Homo sapiens: one gene and its partners. The protein of the gene in region 1 purifies or fractionates together with the protein of each later gene. This does not show direct contact. Each region holds a gene or a part of one and is shown in the gene's direction. Other genes may lie near its edges.

Evidence for each region.
Region 2: the proteins of LARP7 (region 1) and KPNA2 purify together in Homo sapiens (affinity purification with mass spectrometry; 3 studies listed by BioGRID and IntAct, with this or other methods). This does not show direct contact.
Region 3: the proteins of LARP7 (region 1) and TUT1 purify together in Homo sapiens (affinity purification with mass spectrometry; 4 studies listed by BioGRID and IntAct, with this or other methods). This does not show direct contact.
Region 4: the proteins of LARP7 (region 1) and PPM1G purify together in Homo sapiens (affinity purification with mass spectrometry; 3 studies listed by BioGRID and IntAct, with this or other methods). This does not show direct contact.
Region 5: the proteins of LARP7 (region 1) and SF3B1 purify together in Homo sapiens (affinity purification with mass spectrometry; 4 studies listed by BioGRID and IntAct, with this or other methods). This does not show direct contact.
Region 6: the proteins of LARP7 (region 1) and SRSF4 purify together in Homo sapiens (affinity purification with mass spectrometry; 3 studies listed by BioGRID and IntAct, with this or other methods). This does not show direct contact.
Region 7: the proteins of LARP7 (region 1) and FBL purify together in Homo sapiens (affinity purification with mass spectrometry; 4 studies listed by BioGRID and IntAct, with this or other methods). This does not show direct contact.

What each region holds. Positions count from the first base shown.
Region 1 is NC_000004.12:112,654,143-112,658,086, forward strand, and holds the end of LARP7 (la-related protein 7), read left to right. Parts: coding exon 1-17; intron 18-3,104; coding exon 3,105-3,185; 3' UTR 3,186-3,444; downstream 3,445-3,944. UniProt on the Homo sapiens protein: RNA-binding protein that specifically binds distinct small nuclear RNA (snRNAs) and regulates their processing and function.
Region 2 is NC_000017.11:68,042,235-68,045,734, forward strand, and holds part of KPNA2 (importin subunit alpha-1), read left to right. Parts: coding exon 1-119; intron 120-670; coding exon 671-765; intron 766-865; coding exon 866-1,129; intron 1,130-1,603; coding exon 1,604-1,837; intron 1,838-2,086; coding exon 2,087-2,269; intron 2,270-3,500.
Region 3 is NC_000011.10:62,581,524-62,585,023, reverse strand, and holds part of TUT1 (speckle targeted PIP5K1A-regulated poly(A) polymerase), read left to right. Parts: intron 1-3,322; coding exon 3,323-3,500. UniProt on the Homo sapiens protein: Poly(A) polymerase that creates the 3'-poly(A) tail of specific pre-mRNAs. Localizes to nuclear speckles together with PIP5K1A and mediates polyadenylation of a select set of mRNAs, such as HMOX1.
Region 4 is NC_000002.12:27,385,592-27,389,091, reverse strand, and holds part of PPM1G (protein phosphatase 1G), read left to right. Parts: intron 1-1,933; coding exon 1,934-2,003; intron 2,004-2,812; coding exon 2,813-2,898; intron 2,899-3,212; coding exon 3,213-3,345; intron 3,346-3,500.
Region 5 is NC_000002.12:197,390,029-197,393,528, reverse strand, and holds part of SF3B1 (splicing factor 3B subunit 1), read left to right. Parts: intron 1-340; coding exon 341-557; intron 558-1,067; coding exon 1,068-1,226; 3' UTR 1,227-3,500. UniProt on the Homo sapiens protein: Component of the 17S U2 SnRNP complex of the spliceosome, a large ribonucleoprotein complex that removes introns from transcribed pre-mRNAs.
Region 6 is NC_000001.11:29,157,901-29,161,400, reverse strand, and holds part of SRSF4 (serine/arginine-rich splicing factor 4), read left to right. Parts: intron 1-605; exon of another isoform or gene 606-839; coding exon of another isoform or gene 840-883; coding exon 884-1,026; intron 1,027-1,390; exon of another isoform or gene 1,391-1,537; intron 1,538-1,914; coding exon 1,915-2,027; intron 2,028-3,500. UniProt on the Homo sapiens protein: Plays a role in alternative splice site selection during pre-mRNA splicing. Represses the splicing of MAPT/Tau exon 10.
Region 7 is NC_000019.10:39,836,380-39,839,879, reverse strand, and holds part of FBL (rRNA 2'-O-methyltransferase fibrillarin), read left to right. Parts: intron 1-674; coding exon 675-845; intron 846-2,036; coding exon 2,037-2,169; intron 2,170-3,211; coding exon 3,212-3,324; intron 3,325-3,500.

The sequences.
Region 1 (3,944 bases):
AAAGAGGCACTGAAAAGGTAATTGATTCATTTTTGTTTTTTTAGACTAAACTTTCCTTGAACGTTTAATGCCAAAGTCAGTACTAGGTAGTCATAAAATGATCGTAGTTTTGCTATTACCTAACAAAAATTTACTGAGTATATACTATGTTTTAGGTTGGGAGGGAAAAGTCATTTCTCTAGATTTCAAAATGTATGAAATTGAATTATTTTTCTCACAAGGATACATAATTTTAATTTAGATTTTTTCTTTTTAACCAGTGATATACTTTAACAGTCTTGATATCTGGCTGCTATGTCTTGTAGTTTGGTGATAAATGATTATAGAAAGATTATCTTCATGGTAAAAACACAATGTATTCAGAATGTAGTTTATAAAGATAGGAGGCTCCATAGATAAGATGGAGAGACTTTATGCATAGTGTTTCCTATAGCAACGATAAGCTTTATTCCTCTTTCTCTAAGATAGTAGGTAATACAAACAAGCTTAAATAATTTAAAGCAAGCCCCTCTTTCAGTAATTTTATTTTTCTGTCACTTAAAATGATACTGGTCTGATCAGTAGTGGAATCACACCTGGGAATAGCCACTGCTTTCCAGCTTAGGCAACATAGCAAGACCCTGTCTCTTAAAGTTTTAAAACAAATTATTATACATGTAAAGGTTAGTACATTTTAAAAGTGCCTGGAACAAAGTAGGGTACATAATACCTAATATTAACTACAGTCATCAAAATTTAGAAATGCATATTATAAAAGTGTAAGAAAAATGAAAAAGATGAACTTCCTTTTTTGTTAGGTGAGCAAGTTAAAAGTCCTATTTCCTGTAATCTAAGCTTGTTGATTTGGGGTCATATTTATACAAAAAAAAAAAAAAACTAACTTAAAAAGCAAGTGTTTTTCATCAACCTTCTTCTACCATTGCCCAGAATTTATCGTGATTTGTGGGGAGGTGTGAATTTTGTTTCCTTGAAAGGAGACTGAACTTGCTGTGGTGGGGAAGCCTCCTGTGCTTCCCAAGGATTCTTTCAGGGATATGAGGTGTTAATTTCAAAGCCAGTTTGAGATTATTCAAATGTTAAAATCACTAATCCAGAACTGGTAACTGAAGTGAAGTCACTTTGTTAAATAATACCCTTCTAATTGGTGTGAAATTTCATTTAGATTTTATATATTTTTAAAACTAGGAATAAACCTTTTATTTTTCATTTTAAAAATTTAGAGCTCATCTTTGACTAGGAAGTTCTTAAATTGAGTTGGAACACAACTCAGTTATGACGTCAGGATTGTCGTTAACGCAATTTGTTAAGTAGCTATGGAAGTAGCCAGTTGACTCTTGTCGTGAAATGAAACGGAGGTTAACACAGAAAGTAAGTGCTGTGCAAAGCTTGTTGGAAAAAAGGAGTAGACCATAATTAGTTTAGCCAACTTGTTTGCTAGTTAATTCAGCTAATGATTTTTGAGTGCCTTGTGTTAGGCACCATTCTTGGAACCTGGGGTAAAGCCATGAATCACAAAGTCCCCTACTTTCATGAAGCTAACAGATAAACAATATAGTTTAGGTGATGACCAGTGCTAGACAGAAAAATAAAGTGTATTGCAGGAGAGCATTGTAACAGCTGAGGTTGTCTGGAAAACTCTCTGCAAAGGTTATGTTACAGCCAAGACCCATAAGGAAGTGAGCGAGTAAGCCCCAGTAAAGTTTAGAAGTATAGCTTTTCAGGCAGAAGCAAAGAAAATGCAGAGACCGGAAGGGAAGACTGTCAGGGACTAGAAGACCAGTGTAGTTGGAGTACTAGGAGCATCTTAGTAAGTAATGGAAATTGCTTAGAAAAAAAACTAGTAGAACATCAGTGAATCTGCCAAAAGGTTACATAAATACCTTACTGACCTGACAGCCCAATATTTCTACAATAGTGTTGTATTTGGCCCATAATTGAGTAAAAGTAAAAAAATTCTGGCTCTTAATATTCACATTATGGGGCCAGGCACGGTGGCTCATGCCTATAATCCCAGCACTTTAGGAGGCTGAGGCTGGTGGATCACTTGAGGTCAGGAGTTGGAGACCAGCCCGGCCAACATATTGAAACCCTGTCTACTAAAAATACAAAAATTAGCCAGCTGGCACGCACATGTAATCCCAGCTACTGGGGAGGCTGAGGCAAGAGAATTGCCTGAACCTAGGAAGTGGAGGTTGCAGTGAGCCAAGATGGCGCCACTGCACCACAGCCTGGGCAACAGAGCAAGACTCTGTCTCAAAAAAACGAAACTAAAATAATATATTAAACACAAGTAAATTAAATTAGTGATGTATCACAAAAGATCAAGAAGATGAAGGAAAGGTCTGCCAAAAGGGATGTCTCCTATTCATTTTGCTAGCCTAAATCTTTGTAGTATGCCCTATGATTTTGAACACATTGGTAAAAATAGATAACAGCTACTAGAGACAGAATGAAGCTTATTTCTCTTTGGCTTTTAAAACATTTGAATTCTTTTCTGTAAAAATTACTGATACTCAGCAGGTAAAGGCAGAATTTATAAAATTTGTGAACAGCAGCATGGGTATGATAGAGTTCTAAACATCTTTGGATTTTAATTCACCTCAATGATGAATAATAGGCTTTTAGTTTAATCTAAAAGTGAATTCCTTCCAATTGCCATATGGTACCAAACACTTTAAAACTATTTAAATGAATACTCATTAGAATCTATATTTTTTAGAGAAAAAGATTTGCATTTACTCCAAAGTTTAATATTTTAACTTTTTTTTCTCAAGGAAGCTTTTGGAATATTTTAGACATTTTAAACAGTTTTCTTTTTTATTCTGTGTAATTTCATTTGCCTTCCTTAAAAATATTCAACAATTTATGTAAGGGTGTAAGAAATAGGAAATAGTAAATAGCCTTAATAACAGATTTGATTTGTAATTGATTTGACCTGAGCATAATTATCTCATTTGTCATCTTCTCGCTGTTTTTAAAAAATTTCCATTTAAGCTGATAGCTGTGAAATTTTTTCTAGTCATAGTTTTGTGTGTGTGTGTGTGTGTGTGTGTGTGTGTTTTGAGTATCCAATACATTTTAATTTTTGATTTATTTCTCTTTAGTTAATCACCAAAGCTGAAAAGATTAGACTGGCAAAGACTCAACAAGCGAGTAAACATATAAGATTTTCTGAATATGATTGAAAAAAAAAACAGTTCACCTCTTAATACTTCACAAGATACTTGAGCTGTTCTTGGGAGATTCACTTTTATTATGGTAGCACTGCATAATTAATGTGTTTTTAATTAAAAGAAATATCTTTGTTCCTCAACTTGTAAATAAGACTTTTTTCTAGAGACAAATATGATGTATACCACAATTTTTCTTAAACATTTTATTTGTTGAAATTATCTTAGATGTCAGTGTCAGGTGATTTAGTAAATAAATGTGTTTTGAACATTATTTGGAAATGTGTTGATTTTGTTTTTATACTGTAAAAACAAAACATAATTGCAAAAATACTACATGAATATATATAAAGTTTAGAGAAATGTTTAACACTAAACTCTCACTGTACTTAGTTTGTAACTTGCAATACCTTCAATACCTTTTCATGTTGATTTATACAGACATGTTTAATAGTTCATTCTATTCATTCCACTTTGCCTATCTGAGCTTCCATTGAACAATAGACCATAGGGATTGGTTCTAATTAAAATGTTAAATTTTTAAAAGAATTGAGTTTCTTCATAAATCAAGTTAAATGTTTTGTTTTGGTTAGACAAAATAAAATGTATTAGGTGCTATTAGCACAAGAAGGAAAAAATAGAGGAATCAACCTTAGGCAGAACTGAGCTCTGTTATTTTATTCAGGAAAATCATGGGAGTGAAGCATTTAAAGCCTTCCCAGAATTGAACTTAACTGGGTCCATACAGGACTGTCATCTTAATCTCTTATCAAA
Region 2 (3,500 bases), on another chromosome or scaffold:
ATCAGAACAAACCAAGGCTGTGGTAGATGGAGGTGCCATCCCAGCATTCATTTCTCTGTTGGCATCTCCCCATGCTCACATCAGTGAACAAGCTGTCTGGGCTCTAGGAAACATTGCAGGTACTTGGACTTGAAGTTCTTTTGACTGAATGTATCTAATCGTAATTAGTTGGAAGAAAGGCCTTGTTATAAGTAATAGTGACTTTGTCAAGTTTTGAGCTTGCTTTCAAGCCCTTATTAGGAATGAAAGTGTCGTCTTTACAAAGGCAGCAGAGGGCCATCTAAGTAAGTTTGGGAGTTTTTGCTGGTGCATTCAGTCACTGAAAATTGATGGTGTTGGACAAGGTAATAAAATTAATCTTGCCTCGGCCGGGCATGGTGGCTCACGCCTGTAATCCCAGCACTTTGGGAGGCAGAGGCGGGTGGATCATGAGGTCAGGAGATTGAGACCATCCTGGCTAACACAGTGAAACCCCACCTCTACTAAAAATACAAAAAATTAGCCGGGCGTGGCGGCGGGCGCCTGAGGCTGAGGCAGGAGAATGGCTTGAACCCAGGAGGCGGAGCTTGCAGTGAGCCGAGATCGCGCCACTGCACTCCAGCCTGGGCGACAGAGAGAAACTCCGTCTCAAAAAAAAAAAAAAAAAAATTAATCTTGCCTTTTTTTTCAGGTGATGGCTCAGTGTTCCGAGACTTGGTTATTAAGTACGGTGCAGTTGACCCACTGTTGGCTCTCCTTGCAGTTCCTGATATGTCATCTTTAGCAGTAAGTTACTAACATGAGTAAAGTTACTCACTTCTTCATTCTAATTTCCCCCATCTTCTCAAAAGACAGAACCTCTCATTGCCTATTTTTTTTCCCCCAGTGTGGCTACTTACGTAATCTTACCTGGACACTTTCTAATCTTTGCCGCAACAAGAATCCTGCACCCCCGATAGATGCTGTTGAGCAGATTCTTCCTACCTTAGTTCGGCTCCTGCATCATGATGATCCAGAAGTATTAGCAGATACCTGCTGGGCTATTTCCTACCTTACTGATGGTCCAAATGAACGAATTGGCATGGTGGTGAAAACAGGAGTTGTGCCCCAACTTGTGAAGCTTCTAGGAGCTTCTGAATTGCCAATTGTGGTAAGTTATTTACTTGTAGATTAGGACATAAGTATAAGAAGCATGATCAGGGCTGGGCGTGGTAGTGGTGGCTCACACCTGTGTAATCCCAGCACTTTGGGAGACCAAGGCAGGTGGATCACCTGAGGTCAGGAGTTCGAGACCAGCCTGGCCAACATTGTGAAAGCCCATCTCTACTAAAAATACAAAGAAATTATCTGGACATGGTGGCACGTGTCTGTAATCTCAACTACTCGGGAGGCTAAGGCAGGAGAATTGCTTGAATCTGGGAGGCAGAGGCTGCAGTGACCCGAAATCGTGCCATTATACTCCAGTCTCTCAAAAAAAAAAAAAAAAGCATAATCAGTTGATAGTAATATTGAAATATTGCCTATTTCAGGCCATGATGGGCCTCTTGTTAAAACTTTTAGGGTATAGAATTTCTAAAGTGCTGGGGAAAAAATAACCAGCATCAACATATTTTTTTTTTTTCAGACTCCTGCCCTAAGAGCCATAGGGAATATTGTCACTGGTACAGATGAACAGACTCAGGTTGTGATTGATGCAGGAGCACTCGCCGTCTTTCCCAGCCTGCTCACCAACCCCAAAACTAACATTCAGAAGGAAGCTACGTGGACAATGTCAAACATCACAGCCGGCCGCCAGGACCAGATACAGCAAGTTGTGAATCATGGATTAGTCCCATTCCTTGTCAGTGTTCTCTCTAAGGTAACGAAGTCTTAGGATTTAATCAAGTCATTTTTAGTATTTATAGAAAGCTGTGCTTGATAAGCTTCTTCACGTGCAAGAATCTTGGGTTCTACTAGGAGTCCTTTGCTGAACAATACCCAGTAACCCCTTTTACTTAAGGTTGGATAGAACCTTGGTACTTTCAGTCATTGTTTTTGTGAAAAAGTACTCTTGGAATCTTATTTGTGCAACTGTTCTGAAATAAAACCATTTCCTTATGTTTAATAGGCAGATTTTAAGACACAAAAGGAAGCTGTGTGGGCCGTGACCAACTATACCAGTGGTGGAACAGTTGAACAGATTGTGTACCTTGTTCACTGTGGCATAATAGAACCGTTGATGAACCTCTTAACTGCAAAAGATACCAAGATTATTCTGGTTATCCTGGATGCCATTTCAAATATCTTTCAGGTAAGTCCTATCAAGGTGGCTTTGTTTGAATTTGGACTTGATAATAATCAGTTTACTATTTAGACTTGGGGGAGGGCAGCTGTAAGTTTACTCACTAGTAAGCCACAGAATCAGAAAGCCTGTTTATGTGGCCACCCCTTTGATTAAAAATGAGGCAGGCATTATAAAAGATACAAAAGAGACGACAAGTGGATGGTGTGACCTGAATCGGAGTCAGGCGCTTATGTGGACTCATCACACCTGTTTACTTGGTTGATTTAATTTCCCAATTTCATACCGATTTTTGGTGACATTAAATTTGAATGACTTGGCCAGGCACGGTGGCTCATGCCTGTAATCACAGCACTTTGGAAGTCCGAGGTGGGTGGATCACCTGAGGTCAAGAGTTCGAGACCAGCCTGGCCAACATGGCGAAACCCTGTCTCTGCTAAAAATGCAAGAATTAGCCATGTGTGGTGGTGGGCGCCTATAATCCCAGCTACTCAGAAGGCTGAGGCAGGAGAATCGCTTGAACCCGGGAAGCGGAAGTTGCAGTGAGCCAAGTTTGTGTTATTGCACTCCAGCTTGGGCAAGAGTGAAACTGTCTTAAAAAAAAAAAAAAAAAAAGTTGAGCCTTCAATAATGGATGCTAGCGTATCTGTTACTGTGTATAAATAATTTGTCAGTATGTGGCCAGTATTTCTTCTTCCCCTCATCTAATCCCCTAAGTTATTTTGAAGCAAATCTGTTTTTTTCATCTATAGATATTTATGTATCTCTTTAAGGTTGAAAATTTAAAGGAAAACTAACCTACATACCATTCCATATGTCCAGTAAATCCTTAATACCAACACACATTCTGTTTGGGGACGTTTAGTTTAGCACTCCATAGGCCATCTTTGCCCTTAGACACCTTGACTACACCTTGTGATGACATAGGATGCTTTATGAAACAATACACCCCTGTTCCCATAGCAGACCAGTTGAACTGGAATGTAGTGTTGTTTTAAAAGTTGCCCGCATGATTTTGATACATAGAAAAGGTTGGGAGCTACTACTGATTGTAAGATCTTTGGCTCCAGTTGAAGTAGTGCTAAAAGCAGGTACAGATCCAATCACATTGAGTGTCAACAAAATATAAAATGGACATAAAACTATGATAGGCTTGATGAAGGAATTGTTAGGTGCTTATTTCTGCCTGACGTATCAATATTCAAATTATTGATGTTTTCTTCATTAAAATAAAACCAGA
Region 3 (3,500 bases), on another chromosome or scaffold:
ATGGTGAAACCGTCTCTACTAAAAATACAAAAAAATTAGCTGGGCGTAGTGGCAGATTCCTGTAATCCCAGCTATTCAGGAGACTGAGGCAGGAGAATTGCTTGAACCCGAGAGGCGGAGGTTGGAGTGAGCCGAGATCGTGCCACTGCACTCCAGCCTGGGCAACAGAGCGAGACTCCTTCTCAAAAAAAAAAAGTAAAATAAAATAAATAGTATACAATTCATTGGTTGGTTATTTACTATTGGGTAAAAAAATAAACAAACAAAAAGTATACAATTGGCTGGGCATGGTGGCTCATGGCCTGTAATCCCAGCACTTTGGGAGGCCGAGGCAGGTGGATCACCTAAGGTTAGGAGTTGGAGACCAGCCTGGCCAACATGGTGAAACCCCATCTCTACTAAAAATACAAAAAATTACCTGGGTGTGGTGGTGGGCACCTATAATCCTAGCTACTCGGGAGGCAGAAAGCAGGAGAATCACTTGAACCTGGGAGGCAGAGGTTGCTGTGAGCCAAGATCGTGCCACTGCACTCCAGCCTGGGTGACAGAACGAAACTCCATCTCAAAAAAAAAAAAAAAAAAAGTATACAATTTAGGGGTGGGTGTGGTGGCTGATACCTGTAATCCCAGCCCTCTGGGAGGCCGAGGTGGGAGGATCACTTGAGATCAGGAGTTTGAGACCAGCCTGGCTAATGTGGTGAAACCACATCTCTATTAAAAATACAAAAATTAGCCAGGTGTAGTGGTGCGTGTCTTTGATTCCAGCTACTAGGGAGGCTGAGGTAGGATAATTGCTTGAACCCCGGGAGGCAGAGGTAATAATGAGCCGAGAGTGTGCCACTGTACTCAAGTCTGAGTGACAGAGACACTCTGTCTCAAAAAAAAAAAAAAAAAAATACAATTCAGTGAGTGTTAGTATATTCACAGGGTTCTTCAACCCTCATGACTGATTCCAGAATGTTTTCACCACTCCAAAAAGAAACGCCTTATCCTTTCTTGGTTACTTCCCATTTGTGATTTAGGCCTGTGTACTGGTGAAGCCATCCTCCTGGTTGAGTTAATTGTTATGTATGGTGTGAGGTAAAGGTTCAACATCATTGTTTTGCATGTGGCTATCCAGTTGTCCCAGCACAATTTGTTGACAAGACTGTTCTTTCCCCATTGAATCTTCTTGACACCGTTGTTCAAAATCAGTTGACCAAAGATGTGTGAATTTCTTTCAGGGTCTCAATTCCATTCCCTTCATCTGAATGTCTATCTTTATGCTAGCACCACTCTGTCTTGGTGCTACCTTACTCTAGCAGGAACCTTTTTATAAACAAGATGAGGGTCCAGCTTTACCATTGGAGGATATAAAAGAATATGGACTTTTTTGCCTAAAGCAGTCCTGTTTTTCCTCTTCTTTTTTTTTCTTTTTGAGACGGAGATTCGCTCTTGTTGTCCAGACTGGACAGACTGGAGTACAATGCACAATCTCGGCTCACAGTAACCTCCGCCTCCCGGGTTCAAGCAATTGCCTCCTGAGTAGCTGGGATTACAGGCATGCACCACCATATCTGGCTAATTTTGTATTTTTAGTGGAGATGGGGTTTTGCCATGTTGGTCAGGCTGGTTTTGAACTCCTGACCTCAAGTGATCCACCCGCCTAGGCCTCCCAAAGTGTTGAGATTAGGCGTGAGCTACTGCGCCCGGCGTTTTTCCTCTTCTTGCTAATATTTTACCTTTAAAAAAATATGGCCAGTGAATATCATTGAACTCACCAACTTACAACAATATAGTTGTTATATTGCTGTTATTCCTAGATAGTGAGTTCTTGAAGACAGGGTTTATGAGTTTGTATTTATGCCTCGCACAGTGTTTATTACATGAATTGATTTTTTTTTTTTTTTTTTTTTGGAGACAGAGTCTCCCACTGTCGCCCAGGCTGGAGTGCAGTGGCGCCATCTCAGCTCACTGCAAGCTCCGCCTCCTGGGTTCATGCCATTCTCCTGCCTTAGCCTCCCTAGTAGCTGGGACTACAGGCGCCCACCACCACGCCTGGCTAATTTTTTGTATTTTTAGTAGAGACGGGGTTTCACCATGTTAGCCAGGATGGTCTCTATCTCCTGACCTCGTGATCCACCCACCTCGGCCTCCTAAAGTGCTGGGATTACAGGCGTGAGCCACTGCACCCAGCTGCATGAATTGATTTTTTAAAAGATTTTTAAAGTGGACTCATTCTGTTACATGGATCCTTAATAAATGTTTAAAAAAATTCTAATTATATCAGGAAAAGTTATAGGGTGGGTCATAGTGTAATCACATCATTGGGAAGAGTAGGGGACAAATAATGTAGATAAAATGAGGTTTTTAGAGGCAGACTGGGGTGAGAGTAAAATGTTTGGAATAGGAGTGAGGGAAAGAATTGTTTTTCTACTTTTTTTTGAGACAGGGTCTCGCTGTCTCTCAGGCTGGTGTGTAGTGGTGCAATCACAATCACAGCTCACTGCAGCCTCAACATCCTGGGCCCAAGTGATGCTCTTATCATAGCCTCCCAAGTAATTGGAACTACAGGTGTGTGCTGCCATGCCTGGCTAATTTTCTTTTTCTTTTCTTTTTTTTTTTGAGACAGGGTGTGGTTGTGTCACCCAGACTGGAGTGCAGTGGTGCGATCTCGGCTCATTGCAATCTCAGCCCCCGGGCTCAAGCAATCCTCCCATCTCTTCCTCTCCAGTAGCTGGGATTACCTGGCTAATTTAAAAAAATTGTACTGGCCAGGTGCAGTGGCTCACACCTGTAATCCCAGCACTTTAGGAGGCCGAGTTTAGGAGTTTAGGAATTAGAGACCAGCCTGGCCAACATGGTGAAACCCCATTTTTACTGAAAATACAAAAATTAGCTGGGCATGGTGGCATGTGCCTGTAATCCCAGCTACTAGGGAGACTGAGGCAGGAGAATCGCTGGAACCTGGGAGGCAGAGGTTGCAGTAAGCCGAGATCACCCCGCTGCACTCCAGCCTGGGTGACAGAGTAAGACTCCATCTCAAAAAAAAAAAATTGTTTGTAGAGATGGGATCTCACTATGTTGCCCTGGTTGGTCTCCAACTCCTGGGCTCAAGCAGTTCTCCTGCCTCAGCCTCCCAAAGTGCTGGGATTACAGGCATGAGTCACTGCACCTGGCTGAAAATTGCTTTTCTAGATATGTCCCCTGTTATTATGAAAACAGCAAGCAAATATTCTCAATTTATGGGATAGTCTCCATTTCAAATATTCTCATCCACTGTAGATCTCGTGCTTAGATTCTTGGTTCCAAAATCATCATCTCTGCCCCTGTTGTTTACCAGGGAGTGTTTGCCATTGTGGAGATGGGGGACGTGGGTGCTCGAGAGGCTGTCTTGTCACAGTCCCAGCACAGCCTGGGAGGACATCGCCTGCGTGTCCGCCCACGGGAGCAGAAGGAGTTCCAGAGCCCGGCCTCCAAATCCCCCAAAGGAGCGGCCCCCGACAGTCACCAGCTGGCCA
Region 4 (3,500 bases), on another chromosome or scaffold:
GATCATGCAGTATATGGTAGAATGGCAACTTGAGGCCAGTTCTTAGGTGTGTTTGTTGTCCTTATTCAGAATGGAACAATGTGGTTTATTGTACAAAAATTTAAAAATGAATGTCGAAAAGTAGAAATTATTACCCAAATCTCACCCTCTGTGGTTGTTTGCTATGTGATCTTCCAGACTCACATATACATGTAGATAATTTTTTTTTTTTTTTTTTGAGACGGAGTCTTGCTCTGTCGCCCTGGCTGGAGTGCAGTGGCGCAATCTCGGCTCACTGCAGGCTCTGCCTCCTGGGTTCACGCCATTCTCCTGCCTCAGCCTCCCAAGTAGCTGGGACTACAGGCGCCCACCATCACCTCCAGCTAATTTTTTGTATTTTTAGTAGAGACGGGGTTTCACCATGTTAGCCAGGATGGTCTCGATCTCCTGACCTCATGATCCGCCTGCCTGGGCCTCCCAAAGTGCTGGGATTACAGGAGTGAGCCACTGTGGCCGTCCTCACATGTAGATACTTTTTTAACTTTTTGCTTTTAACCACTTAAGATATTGTGAACTCATTTCCAAATTAACATATATTTGCTTTTAACAGCTACATTTCCACTGGAGTTACGTACCATTTGTAATCTATTCCTGGAAATTTAGATGGTTACAACTGTTTTTTATTTTATTTATTTATTTATTTAGAGACGGAGTCTGACTCTGTCACCCAGGCTGGAGCGCAGTGGTGTGATCTTGGCTCACTGCAACTTCCACCTCCGGGGTTCAAGTGATTCTCCTGCCTCACCCTTCCGAGTAGCTGGGACTACGGGCGCACACCACCACGCCTGGCTAATTTTTGTATTTTTAGTAGAGACGGGGTTTCACCATGTTGGCCAGGATGGTATTGATCTCTTGACTTCATGATCTGCCGGCCTTAGCCTCCCAAAGTGCTGGGATTACAGGTGTGAGCCACCACGCCTGGCCTCAACTGTTTTTTATTATAAATAATGCTGTAGGCCGGGCGCGGTGGCTCACTTATGTAATCCCAGCACTTTGGGAGACTGAGGCGGGTGGATCCCGAGATCAGGAGATCGAGACCATTCTGGCTAACAAGGTGAAACCCCGTCTCTACTAAAAATACAAAAAATTAGCCGGGTGTGGTGGTGGGTGCCTGTAGTCCCAGCTACTTGGGAGGCTGAGGCAGGAGAATGGCGTGAACCTGGGAGGCGAAGCTTGCAGTGAGCAGAGATCGCACCACTGCCCTCCAGGCTGGGCGACAGAGCGAGACTCCGTCTCAAAAAATAATAATAAATAAATAAATAAATAAAGCTGTGTACAGCCTGGCCAACACTTTGGGAGGCCGAGGCAGGCAGATCACAAGGTCAGGAGTTCGAGACCAGCCTGACCAACATGGTGAAACCCCATCTCTACTAAAAATACAAAAGTTAGCCGGGCATGGTGGCACATGCCTGTAATCTCAGCTATTCAGCAGGCGGAGGCAGGAGAATCGCTTGAACCCACGAGGCGGAGGTTGCAGTGAGCCAAGATCGCGCCACTGCACTCCAGCTTGGGTGACAGGGCGAGACTCTGTCTCAAAAAAAAAAAGAAGAAAAAATCCTTTATTCTGGTTTTCCCGTAGCTTCCACAGATCCAAAAGGGTCAGGTTTATTTCCAGTAGCCAAATATTCTGCCATCTGGACTGAGATATCTCCTAGGTTGAGGTTATTATAGAGGTAGTAACCTGATTCTTTCTTCCTTTTCTCCTTCCCCTTTCCTCCTTTGCCTCCCTCCTCTTTTCTTCCTCTGTATTTATTTTATCATTCCTTCTTCCTTTCTTATTTCTAGGCCATATAGGCCAGCCAGGGAAAGGTTAGTAAGGGGTGACATTGATCCCTATGACCTGAGGAATATTCTTCGACCTTGAGACATGCCGATTATGCTCTTCTTTTCCTAGGATGCTCACAACTGTATTCCTGAGCTGGACAGTGAGACAGCCATGTTTTCTGTCTACGATGGACATGGAGGTAACTTTAACAGATCATATTGGTAACATTCTAGGACCCCAATTCCAGACGTTCCAGGGCAAGAACAGGTCCCTTTGTTCATTTACTTTCCAGGGTCTGGCCCTCATTATCATTTCCTGCGTGGTGCTGTTTTTCTGTATTCTGTCATTCTTTTTTCCCAGTAGGTACTGTATTGGTTTATAATCTCACCAGGACTTGTTTTAATCCAAAGAGCCTCTATCTTTTTTTATTTTTATTTTTTAAAATTTTTAGGCTGGGCACGCGGTAGGTCACACCTGTAATCCCGGCACAGTGGATCACGAGGTCAGGAGTTCGAGACCAGCCTGACCAATATGGTGAAACCCCATCTCTACTAAAAATACAAAAATTAGCTGGGCGTAGTGGTGGGCGCCTGTGGTCCCAGCTGCTCGGAAGGCTGAGGCAGGAGAATCGCTTGAACCTGGGAGGTGGAGGTTGCAGTGAGCCAAGACCATGCCACTGCACTCCAGCCTGGGCAACAGAGCAAGACTCTTGTCTTAAAAAACAAAAAAGTGTACCCAGTTGAGCTGATTCTTTATCTTTTTTTCACTGGAGAACTAAGTATACAGGTGAGAAAAGACGAGATATTTATACCCGAGAGAATTGATGGTGAAATCCATTTTTTTGGATCAGAACTTCCCCAAACAGTGTCCTTCAAATAGGGTTCAGGGGTGCTAAGATATTTATCCCCTCAACCCTTGGGGTTCACTCCAGTATGGCATATAAATATTGTATCACTTTCTATGTGTGGGGAGCAGTGCTCCAGGTGACCTTCCTTCCTTTCCTTCTAGGGGAGGAAGTTGCCTTGTACTGTGCCAAATATCTTCCTGATATCATCAAAGATCAGAAGGCCTACAAGGAAGGCAAGCTACAGAAGGTCTGTCTGCTTACACCGCCCATTCCTCACTTGTGTAGGCTTTTCCCTTGTTCTCTAGCCCTTGGGCTTTTCCTTTCTTTTTGTCCTCTAGCTGCTGCTGCTTATTTACTCTTGAAGAATTCTGTTCCTAAAACGAGCTTATTGGCCGCCTTTTAGACTTGCCTTATTATTCCTAGGCCTCTGAGCTGTTTTTATCTGTGAGTGTCTCTTAGTGTGGTGGCTCACACTCTTAATTTGTATTCCATCCTTGTGCTCAGGATTGTATATAGGGAGTTCATTTTGTACTAGTCTTAGACTATTTTGCTTATATTCAGGCTTTAGAAGATGCCTTCTTGGCTATTGACGCCAAATTGACCACTGAAGAAGTCATTAAAGAGCTGGCACAGATTGCAGGGCGACCCACTGAGGATGAAGATGAAAAAGAAAAAGTAGCTGATGAAGATGATGGTGAGTGTGGCATCCCTTGTTTGAGGGGAAATCAGCATTTTAAGAAATATTCTTTAATATTACTTATCAATTCTAAGATAGGATGGCTTTCTAGGGACCTGGGGAGTCCTTATGTTAAAGAAACCTATGATGTTCTCCTGCATTGTATGTGGTTA
Region 5 (3,500 bases), on another chromosome or scaffold:
GTGAGCCAAGATCACACCACTGCACTCCAGTCTGGGTGACAGAGTAAGACTCCGTCTCAAAAAAAAAAAAAAAGTTAATTAGAAAATATGGCTTAATTGTTGAGCCATAGTGAATCTTGAGTAATTAAAGCAAAAGTCCTCAAGTGGAAGCTATTCTAAAGGATATATTAGATATATGAAATGTTAGATGACTTCACATCTATTCAGTGCACTGAATTAGTAATTTAGTTTCTAATGGGCCGGTGAATATTTCCTGTAAAACTAAGACTGTATCTTTAAGGATTTTTCCCCCTTTCTTATAAGACCGCATCTTAAAGGACTTTTTTCCCTTCCGTTGTAGAGACCTTGTACACAGACAGACGGCTAGTGCAGTGGTACAGCACATGTCACTTGGGGTTTATGGATTTGGTTGTGAAGATTCGCTGAATCACTTGTTGAACTATGTATGGCCCAATGTATTTGAGACATCTCCTCATGTAATTCAGGCAGTTATGGGAGCCCTAGAGGGCCTGAGAGTTGCTATTGGACCATGTAGAATGTTGCAATATTGTTTACAGGTAAGTTAAAGATTTTTTTTTTAATCGGTGATTTTTTTTTTTTAAATAATACTTTAAGTTCTGGGATACTTGTGCTGAACGTGCAGGTTTGTTACATAGGTATATATGTGCCATGGTGGTTTGCTGCACCTATCAACCTGTCATCTAGGTTTTAAGCCCTGCATGCATTAGGTATTTGTCCTAATGCTCTCCCTCCCCTTTCCCCCCACTGCCTGTAAGTTAAAGATTTTTAAAAGATTACTTAGCAAGAAAAGTAGTGTATTGAATTAAGTTACTTTTCCTGATTATCATTAGGGTATATTGTGCCATATGGTAGAACAATTGTGTGGTGACAGGGGAGTGAGTTTTGTCTCTTCCATTGCAGCTTAAGAGCAGTGTAATTAGTAGGTTCCCCCCCCCCCAACTCCCCAAGGGAAATAATTTTGAATCATATCTTTATGTTTTCTTAATTTTGTTAAGGTTATGTATGTTCTTAAAAATTGAAATAATGTAACCGTTCAATTATTTTAGGGTCTGTTTCACCCAGCCCGGAAAGTCAGAGATGTATATTGGAAAATTTACAACTCCATCTACATTGGTTCCCAGGACGCTCTCATAGCACATTACCCAAGAATCTACAACGATGATAAGAACACCTATATTCGTTATGAACTTGACTATATCTTATAATTTTATTGTTTATTTTGTGTTTAATGCACAGCTACTTCACACCTTAAACTTGCTTTGATTTGGTGATGTAAACTTTTAAACATTGCAGATCAGTGTAGAACTGGTCATAGAGGAAGAGCTAGAAATCCAGTAGCATGATTTTTAAATAACCTGTCTTTGTTTTTGATGTTAAACAGTAAATGCCAGTAGTGACCAAGAACACAGTGATTATATACACTATACTGGAGGGATTTCATTTTTAATTCATCTTTATGAAGATTTAGAACTCATTCCTTGTGTTTAAAGGGAATGTTTAATTGAGAAATAAACATTTGTGTACAAAATGCTAATTTGTGTGTGTTTTTTGAACATGACTTGTAAAATGCGGAACTTTGATAAAGTATTGGTTTATGTGGAATAAGTGGCTTAATTTCATTTTCTGTCACATGGTTTATAGAAAGTAGTTAGCTGAATAAAAACTATATAAAGTGATGGCATCTTTGTCAAAATTCCATTGTTGTGTTAATAATGACAGCAAGAAGAGTAGCCTCAGGGGATGTTCCCCTCAAACTAGCACAACCATTCCATCATCGTAGAAAAGTAGCACTTTTGCTAAACTGTCTTGAATATTTTGTACTTACATAGCGCCTTTCATCTCTTGATTTCTCAAAATGCTTTATGAACACATTTAAAGAAAGTGGTTTAAGTCTTGTCCAACACTTGACAGGTCTGCTGTGTTTAGCAAGTGAGGAATTTAACTTTACTTCAAAACTGCTTTCTGCCTATTAGGAGTGAGGATACCTAAGTAATGCTGATAGAACAGGACAATGTTGGGCTTTTCTCCATGTTATAAGCCACTACTCAGCAATGCATCAGTAAATACCTATTCACCCACTGTATGCCAGCCACTGTGCTTATATGCAGGGGATGCAAAGGTGCATGAGACCTGCCCTCTACCTTTAAGAACAGTATAATGGAGAAGGGGAGACAAACCTTGTGACAGATTCCTTATGTACTGTGATAATACACAGTGGCAGCAGCTAAAATGTCTAGGTTTGCTTAGCTTTGTATTCAGTAATAATAAGTTGATCTAAGAGTTCAGCATAAACTGAATGAAATGCCATTTAATGGTAGAGGAACCAAGCATTAAGGCAGTACTACACTTAATTTTTTAAGCAAATATGTAAAGTATATTTTCAAACTTTTCTAATGTTATGGCCCCAAATTTCTTAGTTTTGGCCTTTTTACTACCTATACTATTTTTACTGTTTTGTTTTGTCTCCATGTGGTAGTACTTCTGTGAACTCTAAAGGGAAAAAAAATTCTGCAAGCAGCATTAGTATATAACTACTACTGTAAGTAAAACTGCCTATTGACACTTTAGGAGTTCCTGCTTCAGAAGCTTAGTTAAGAAACAGCTTGTGGCCGGGTGTGGTGGCTCATGCCTGTAATCCCAGCACTTTGGGAGGCTGAGGCGGGCGGATCACGAGGTCAGGAGATCGAGACCATCCTGGCTAACGCGGTGAAGTCCCGTCTACTAAAAATACAAAAATTAGCCAGGCGTGGTGGCGGGCGCCTGTAGTCCCAGCTACTAGGGAGGCTGAGGCAGGAGAATGGCTTGAACCCGGGAGGCGGAGCTTGCAGTGAGCCGAGATAGCGCTGCTACACTCCAGCCTGGGCGACAGAGACTCCGTCTCAAAAAAAAAAAAAAAATTGACTTTCAACAAATTGATAGTGAGCATTAAGGGTTTCCAAGTTGGATTTGTAACTCCTCATCATTCCTTGTATGACAACTTTCTGAATATATGTCACTATGTAGTAAAATTAAACACTCCAAACTCATCTTTCTGTTGTTAGAAGTTTTCAGCGGTACTTCCATGCAACTTTAAATCTCACTGCTCTCTATGGTTGATGTCAAATGACCTTCAGTAATGACTGAGAATTGAATACAAATAGATTACAAAGCCAAAATTTGATGTTAAATGACTCAGGAAATTTTAGTTGTATTTTCAATTCAAGTACTTAGTAGCCTACGTTTGCTTGGCCTCTGGTTCTTTATGGAAAATAGGCTTTGTAGTGGCATTGTGGAGCAAAGGAGACTGTTACACCTTAATTAACTTTTTTTACTGATGCAAATAATTTGAGGATAGAGAGGAGGGAAGTAGTGAAAGCTATGACCTAAAACATTGGGACCAAATAGAGGCTCACAGATATTTGGATTATTTTATGTGCTTATTATTAAATAAGGAAAGCATTTTGTGATATGTGGAAGACGCTATGTGAAGTTTTACCTAT
Region 6 (3,500 bases), on another chromosome or scaffold:
TGGTTTTTAAATATAGGCAATGGTCACAAAGCTGGACTTTTCACAGCTGTGTCAGACCAAACTAAATATTTCTTGAAAACATAATTTACAGGGCATTTGTATAACCTTGCTTATAAGTATCTTACAAATTTTGCACTTTAGCTATATAAATTGTACTCTTTAATAGGCATTAGTAGGATGGTGGGGGTTCTTTTGGTTATATGTTAAGCCACCAAACCTCTTGGCTGGAAAAGATGTAGCAATACCATTTAAAGAAGTTTGCACGAGTTGTATACAGATTTCAGAGAATTCCATCCTATTCTAAAACTTCATGGAAATGAATTTGGAATCTCACAGGGAAGTAAACAGCTCCAGTCTTTTTTTCACTGATAATCACATGTGACAGATGTGTTTACGTAGAGGAACAGGAACCTTAAAAAAAAGTTTTTTACTTTCACATGATTCAACAGTTATTACACAGTGCCTGAATGTAGGTCTAATTGTTCTCTAAGATACCACTTTTAAAGCTAAAAAAGATGAGTTTTATGTGGTGTTTGAAAGAGCGTTATATGTCTTGTAGCATTATATATTTTGGATTCTTATACCAAGCATCCCTGTCTTTGCAGTTGCCACCAACTACTTGGGAAACAAAAGAAGTGTCCTGTGTATGTAGCCAGCCTCCTCCTAGAAAGATAGGAGTCTACTTTGAGAAGTCTCCCTACCTCTTTCAGTGCCTGTTGGCACAAAGCAAAGTGGTTTCACCTGAAGAGAAGACAAAGTTGATCCTTAGTTTGCAAAATCCACCTAACCTTTGCTAAGCATGAACCTCATTGCTTTCTCTTTAATGTTAGTGAAGCTGGATGTCAAAATGGTACCAACCAGTATTTTCTTTGCTCTCTTCTAGATATGGTTTTGTGGAGTTTGATGATCTGCGTGATGCAGATGATGCTGTTTATGAACTGAATGGCAAAGACCTTTGTGGTGAGCGAGTAATTGTTGAGCATGCCCGCGGCCCACGGCGAGATGGCAGTTACGGTTCTGGACGCAGTAAGCATTCAAAGGGCATACTTTTATCAGTAACGTGCTTTTGTTATCATGCTAATTTTTAAAGTAATTAATTGATATTACATTTAAACGTATTGATGTTTAAGCTATTTTGTAAATTATGTATCTTTTTTAAAAATGTAGAATTACAAATAAGCCTTTGATAATGTTTAATTTTAATTAAACTAATGACAATTTCTTGTTTATAATACTTTATAAATATGTTTAATGATGTGTGTTTGTGTTGTTGTTGTTTTTTTCTCTGTAATGCAATTGTTTAACATAGATTTAACAAAGACCTCAATGTTTTAATTAAAAGAATCCTTTGAGGCTAAGATGACTGCCTGTTCCATTTGCTGACCTTGGGTTACCTTTCCATGCGTGGCTCTTTGAACCATTGTGGCCCTTGGCTGACCAAAAACAGGAAGCCATGTGACGACCGCAACCTTTCCCCATTAGACCTGGGTGGTGAGGATCCCAAGGGTTAGACACAGATGAGATTAAACTGAAATAGGTGCCTGAAAATCTTTTTTTTTCCATATAAAATATTCACAAAATGTTTAATCACTGTGAGTAACACCAGTAACTGATTTAGTAATTTGGTTACTTATTTCTAAATTGTTAAATTGTTAATAGTTTTAAATTTATGCATGTTAATCTTAAATGCAAATATTAATGAATATGTATACTTACAACTTTTTAAATTAAATGTTTATATTTAGCTGATTGCTTCTTTAAAAATCTATTTTAGAATTAAGGGTGGGAATAGAGTTAAAACGTGCTATTGTTTGGGGTGGGGGTAAATAATATATTTAAGGGGGGGTGTGTGCTGTGTCATTTTTTTTCCTTTTCTTCCACTGAAATAATCTTATTTATTTGAACCTTCCAAAGGTGGATATGGTTATAGAAGAAGTGGCCGAGATAAATATGGCCCTCCTACTCGCACAGAGTACAGACTTATTGTGGAGAATTTGTCAAGTCGGTGCAGCTGGCAAGACCTAAAGGTTTGGGCCCCATTAACCTTTTGGGGTAAGGTTGGGCAGGAGTTAAAGTTGGGAAACAGGTAGATTTGTGCAGGCCCAGGCATACACAAAATACAGTGTTATATGTTTGAAAGCCTGCACAGAGCTGGAAATAATTAAAGTGCCATATGAGTACAAAATATATCAGAATTATATTCCTGCTATACATTGTGGGACCATCATTCTAAGGACACATTTGTGAGTTTGGTTTGGTTTGGTTTGGTTTGGTTTGGTTTGGTTTGGTTTGTTTGAGATGGAGTCTCGCTGTGTTGCCCAGGCTGGAGTGCAGTGGCACCATCTCTGCTCACTGCAGCCTCCGCCTCCCGGGTTCAAGCAATTCTCCATCTCAGCTTCCTGAGTAGCTGGGATTACAGGCACCCGCCACCATGCCCGGGTAATTTTTTTGTATTTTTAGTAGAGACGAGGTTTCACCATCTTGAACTCCTGACCTTGTGATCCACCCGCCTCAGCCTCCCAAAGTGCTGGGATTACAGGCGTGAGCCACCGCGCCCGGCCTGATTTTGTTTTGTTACAGAGTCTCTGTTGCCTAGGCTGGAGTGCAGAGGCACAATCATGGCTCAGAGATTGGTTGTCACTATGTTACCCCGACTGGTCTCGAACTCCTGGCCTCAAGTGATCCTTCAGTCTCAGCCTCCTCAAGTGCTGACATGACAGAAACCTGGCCCAAATGTGTGATAACGAAATTTCTCTCTGTAAAGAATGTTTGAAACCCTGTCTCTACTTAAAAAGATACAAAAATTAGCCGGGCGTGGTGGTGGGCACCTGTAGTCCCAGCTACTTGGGAGGCTGAGGCAAGAGAATTGCTTGAACCTGGAAGGTGGAGGTTGTAGTGAGCCAAAATCATGCCACTGCACTCCAGCCTGGGCAGTAGAGCAGGACTCTGTCTCAAAAAAAAAAAAAAGGGTTACAAGAAGATGGCAGTGTAGCTACTCACCAGTCAATAAAATGGTTGAAACCATCAGTGTTTCCTGCAGCATTTGCTATAACATGCAAATTCACATCAGCTTCAGTGTGTATCCTTACTGGTGAAATTGACAATCTGACCCATGTTTTTTCATAAGGTTTTTGATGGAATATTTGTCCTGAAAGAGGTTTGGTGTCAAGAATTAAGATTCAGTGCTAATGTTGGCCATCCAGTGTACTGGTTCCAGCTTTTTTTTTTTTTTGAGATGGAGTCTCGCCCTTTCGCCTAGGCTGGAGTGCAGTGGCGCCATCTCAGCTCACTGCAACCTCCGCCTCTGGGGTTCAAGTAGTTCTGCCTCAGCCCTCTGAGTAACTGGGATTACAAGTGCATGCCACCATGCCCGGCCAATTTTTGTATTTTAGTAGAGGCGGGGTTTCACCATGTTGACCAGGCTGGTCTCGAGCTCCTCCTGACCACAAGTGATCCACCTGCCTTGGCCTCCTAAAGTGCTGGGATTACAGGCGTGAGCC
Region 7 (3,500 bases), on another chromosome or scaffold:
GCTGCGTCACACCACTCTGCGGGTCAAGGCATCCCTCACCGCCCTCCCCTGTCCTGTTATCCTGTGTCATTTTCTTTGAGGCCAGGGTGTGCCTGCCTTGGGGCCTTCCTAATCGCTCTCCCTCTCGTGGGAATGTCCTTCCTCAGATAACTTGAATGGCCCCTTGCCTCCTTCAGGTCTGATTTGGAATCTGCCTTTCAGCCCCTCCCTGGCCCCTTTTCCCATTTTCACCTGCTCCTTGCCCTGCTTCCCAAACTCCGTATCTTCTCTCCTGGCTTTGTCTTCTCTCCTTAACACCTGTCACCATCTCATATGCCATGTTGTATTTAGTTAGTTCGGTGAATACTTACACCTTCTGGGCAGGGATCCTTGTTTTGTATCCCCAGCGCCTAGAGCAGGGTCTGGCACACAGTAGGTGCTGGCACAGTGCATGTTTGTTGAACAAGTGCTGGTTTTACTGTTACTGTTTGTGTTTATTCTCTTTTGCTGCCCTTTGGGTCAGTCACCTCCATGAGAGGGCAGCGACTGCATGTGCATGGTCACTGCTCTTTACTCATGTTGAGTTCTTGTGCAGTGATAGGACAGCCCAGTTCCTTTCAAGGCTCCTAGGGTTAAAGGCAGTGAGGTCCTGCAGAAGAGCCTAGCACTGACTTCTGTCCCCATCTCTCATCTAGGAAGGAGATGACAAAATTGAGTACCGAGCCTGGAACCCCTTCCGCTCCAAGCTAGCAGCAGCAATCCTGGGTGGTGTGGACCAGATCCACATCAAACCGGGGGCTAAGGTTCTCTACCTCGGGGCTGCCTCGGGCACCACGGTCTCCCATGTCTCTGACATCGTTGGTCCGGTGAGTGAGTAGATGGAGAGTCAGGCAGGAGGTAAAGGCTGCCTCCCTTCTGCCAACCTGGAATATCAGGGTTTGACTGCTTGCCTGCGCTGTGTGACTTAGGGCCAGGCCCTTTTCTGTCACTGTGCCTGTGAGTAAAAGGAGTGGCTTGAACCAGATAATGTCATTCAACCTCACTCCTGGGTTCTTGGCCTCAAGGGAAGAGACGTGGGTGTGGGGTGACCAACCTTAGAGAGACAACGGGGAGTATAGATACCAGACTATTTGATTTGATGGGCCTCTTTAAAATTTTATGCTGCTAAAACCTGCTCTTCTGGTTTCTTTAGAAAGAACCAGGAGATCTTCATGGTTTCTGAGCCTGTATAGGCTTCCCATTTAGAGGGCCCCTGGCACCCACGTGTCCCACTCTGTTACCCTTTGTTACTTTATGTGTTTATAAGCTGTTAAGTGTAGTGCCTTAAAACCTCAGGCTTTGGCCAGACGAGGTGGCTCATGCCTTTAATCTCAACACTTTCGGAGGCCGAGGCAGGTGGATCACCTGAGGTCAGGAGTTCGAGACCAGCCTGACCAATATGGTAAAACCCCATCTCTACTAAAAATACAAAAATTAGCTGGGTGTGGTGACGTGTGCCTGTAGTCCCACCTACTTGGGAGGCTGAGACAGGAGAATTGCTTGAACCCAGGAGGCGGACGTTGCACTAAGCTGAGATCGCACAACTGCACTCCATCCTGGGCAACAGAGTGAGACTCAAAAAAAAAAAAAAAAAAAACCTCAGGCTTTAATCAGGCAAGTTACCTAACCCATCCAAGCCTCAGTTTACCTGTCTGGAACATAGACTTGTGAAGATTAAATGAGTTAATTTCTGAAAGGTGCTTAGAGCAGTGGTTGGCCCATTGTTACATCATCTCTGTGCCTTGGCTTCCTGGTTTTAAGCCTCTGTTGGGAACCTGGGCTCTCAGGCAGATGGGATTGGGTACTTTTGCTACTTGCTGAATAACTCTTGGCCAGTGACTTTATGTCTGGACCTCAGTTTATTCATGTGAAAAATGGACATGATAGCAATAGTCATTAGATGGTAGGGTTTTGATTTGGGGGTTGGAAGAGATGCTGTGTATAGTGTATGGGCCTAAAGTAGGCACTCCATGCATGAGAACTAGCATCACTGTTCATTAATTTTTAATTTATTTTAGGATGGTCTAGTCTATGCAGTCGAGTTCTCCCACCGCTCTGGCCGTGACCTCATTAACTTGGCCAAGAAGAGGACCAACATCATTCCTGTGATCGAGGATGCTCGACACCCACACAAATACCGCATGCTCATCGGTGAGGGGTCTGGGGGTGGCCCCGGTGGGGTAGGACAGGCCACCGCAGGCTTCTGGAAGAAGCCAGTGGATCTCTGATTCGGATGGAGTTGGAGTGGATGAGCAGACCTCTTGAGTCTGCAGGAATAGAAAGGGGTAAGGGGAGCTAGGTGAGGTTGTGGAGGTGGCAGCTTGGCTTCAGAGTCTTGGAAGCCACCCTTGGAGGGCCAACCTCTTCTCCTTCAGTCTCCTCCCCATCTCCTAGGTCTCCTGTACTTCCTGCCTCTTGTATTTATTACACTACCCCTCCATAAAAAGCCTCCTTTTGGGGGTCCTAATCATTGTCTGGTGAGAGCATATCCCAGAAAACTAAGCATGGCTTGATCTGGAGGGGCCCACTGTGAATATTAATTACTTTGTTTAAAAAAACATTCAAAGATATAATATAAAAGTTGAAAAGCCTTATAAACCACCGCCAGAAGTAACTGATGAGAACAATTTGATGTCTGCTTTTCCCAGGTTTTAAATAATCAGTTTTCATTATACCACCTTTTCATTTTTTGAAAAGTCACACTGGCTTAAAAACATTATTTTTCATTCTGCTCCTTTTTCTTTCTGTGTTTTATTTTTCCCATGCACTCATACCATCCCCTTTGTTCTGCAACTTGTTTTCATTTCACAGTCCTGCGGACACTCTTGCCTATAAGTGCTCACTCACTCTTACTTGTCTTTTTGATGACGTGTCTGTCTCCCCACCAGACCTGGGAGCGTCTCGAGGGCAGGGTCCGGGTCTGACTCGTCTCTATGTCCCCCACGCCCGGCCCAGGGCTGGCCACAGAGTAGGTGGCAACCATGGTTTACAAGAAGAGTGGATGAATGATGTGACTGTGGGTTTTGGACTCATCTTGGGACACTGGAGGGAGGGGGACCAGTGGAGGTGGGGAGTGAAACTGGAGGCAGGGAGAATCTCCCAGGAACCTGCTGGTGATGGGCATAGGCCCCATGGGAGGATCTGGGGTGATCCCTGTGACTCCAACTTTTAACTGCTGCTCCTTTCTCCTTAGCAATGGTGGATGTGATCTTTGCTGATGTGGCCCAGCCAGACCAGACCCGGATTGTGGCCCTGAATGCCCACACCTTCCTGCGTAATGGAGGACACTTTGTGATTTCCATTAAGGTGCGGGGTTTGGAAGAGTCTAAGATGGGGTGGCAGTGTTCTAGGGAGGTATCTTCTCTATCTGTATCTGTCAAATAGCCACCCAAAACAGAGGGGCCAAGTCTGCAAAACTATAGCTTTGGATTTAAAGAGGCAGGAGAGTGCAGCGGTCAAGTGCAAAATTGAGTCTGACCATC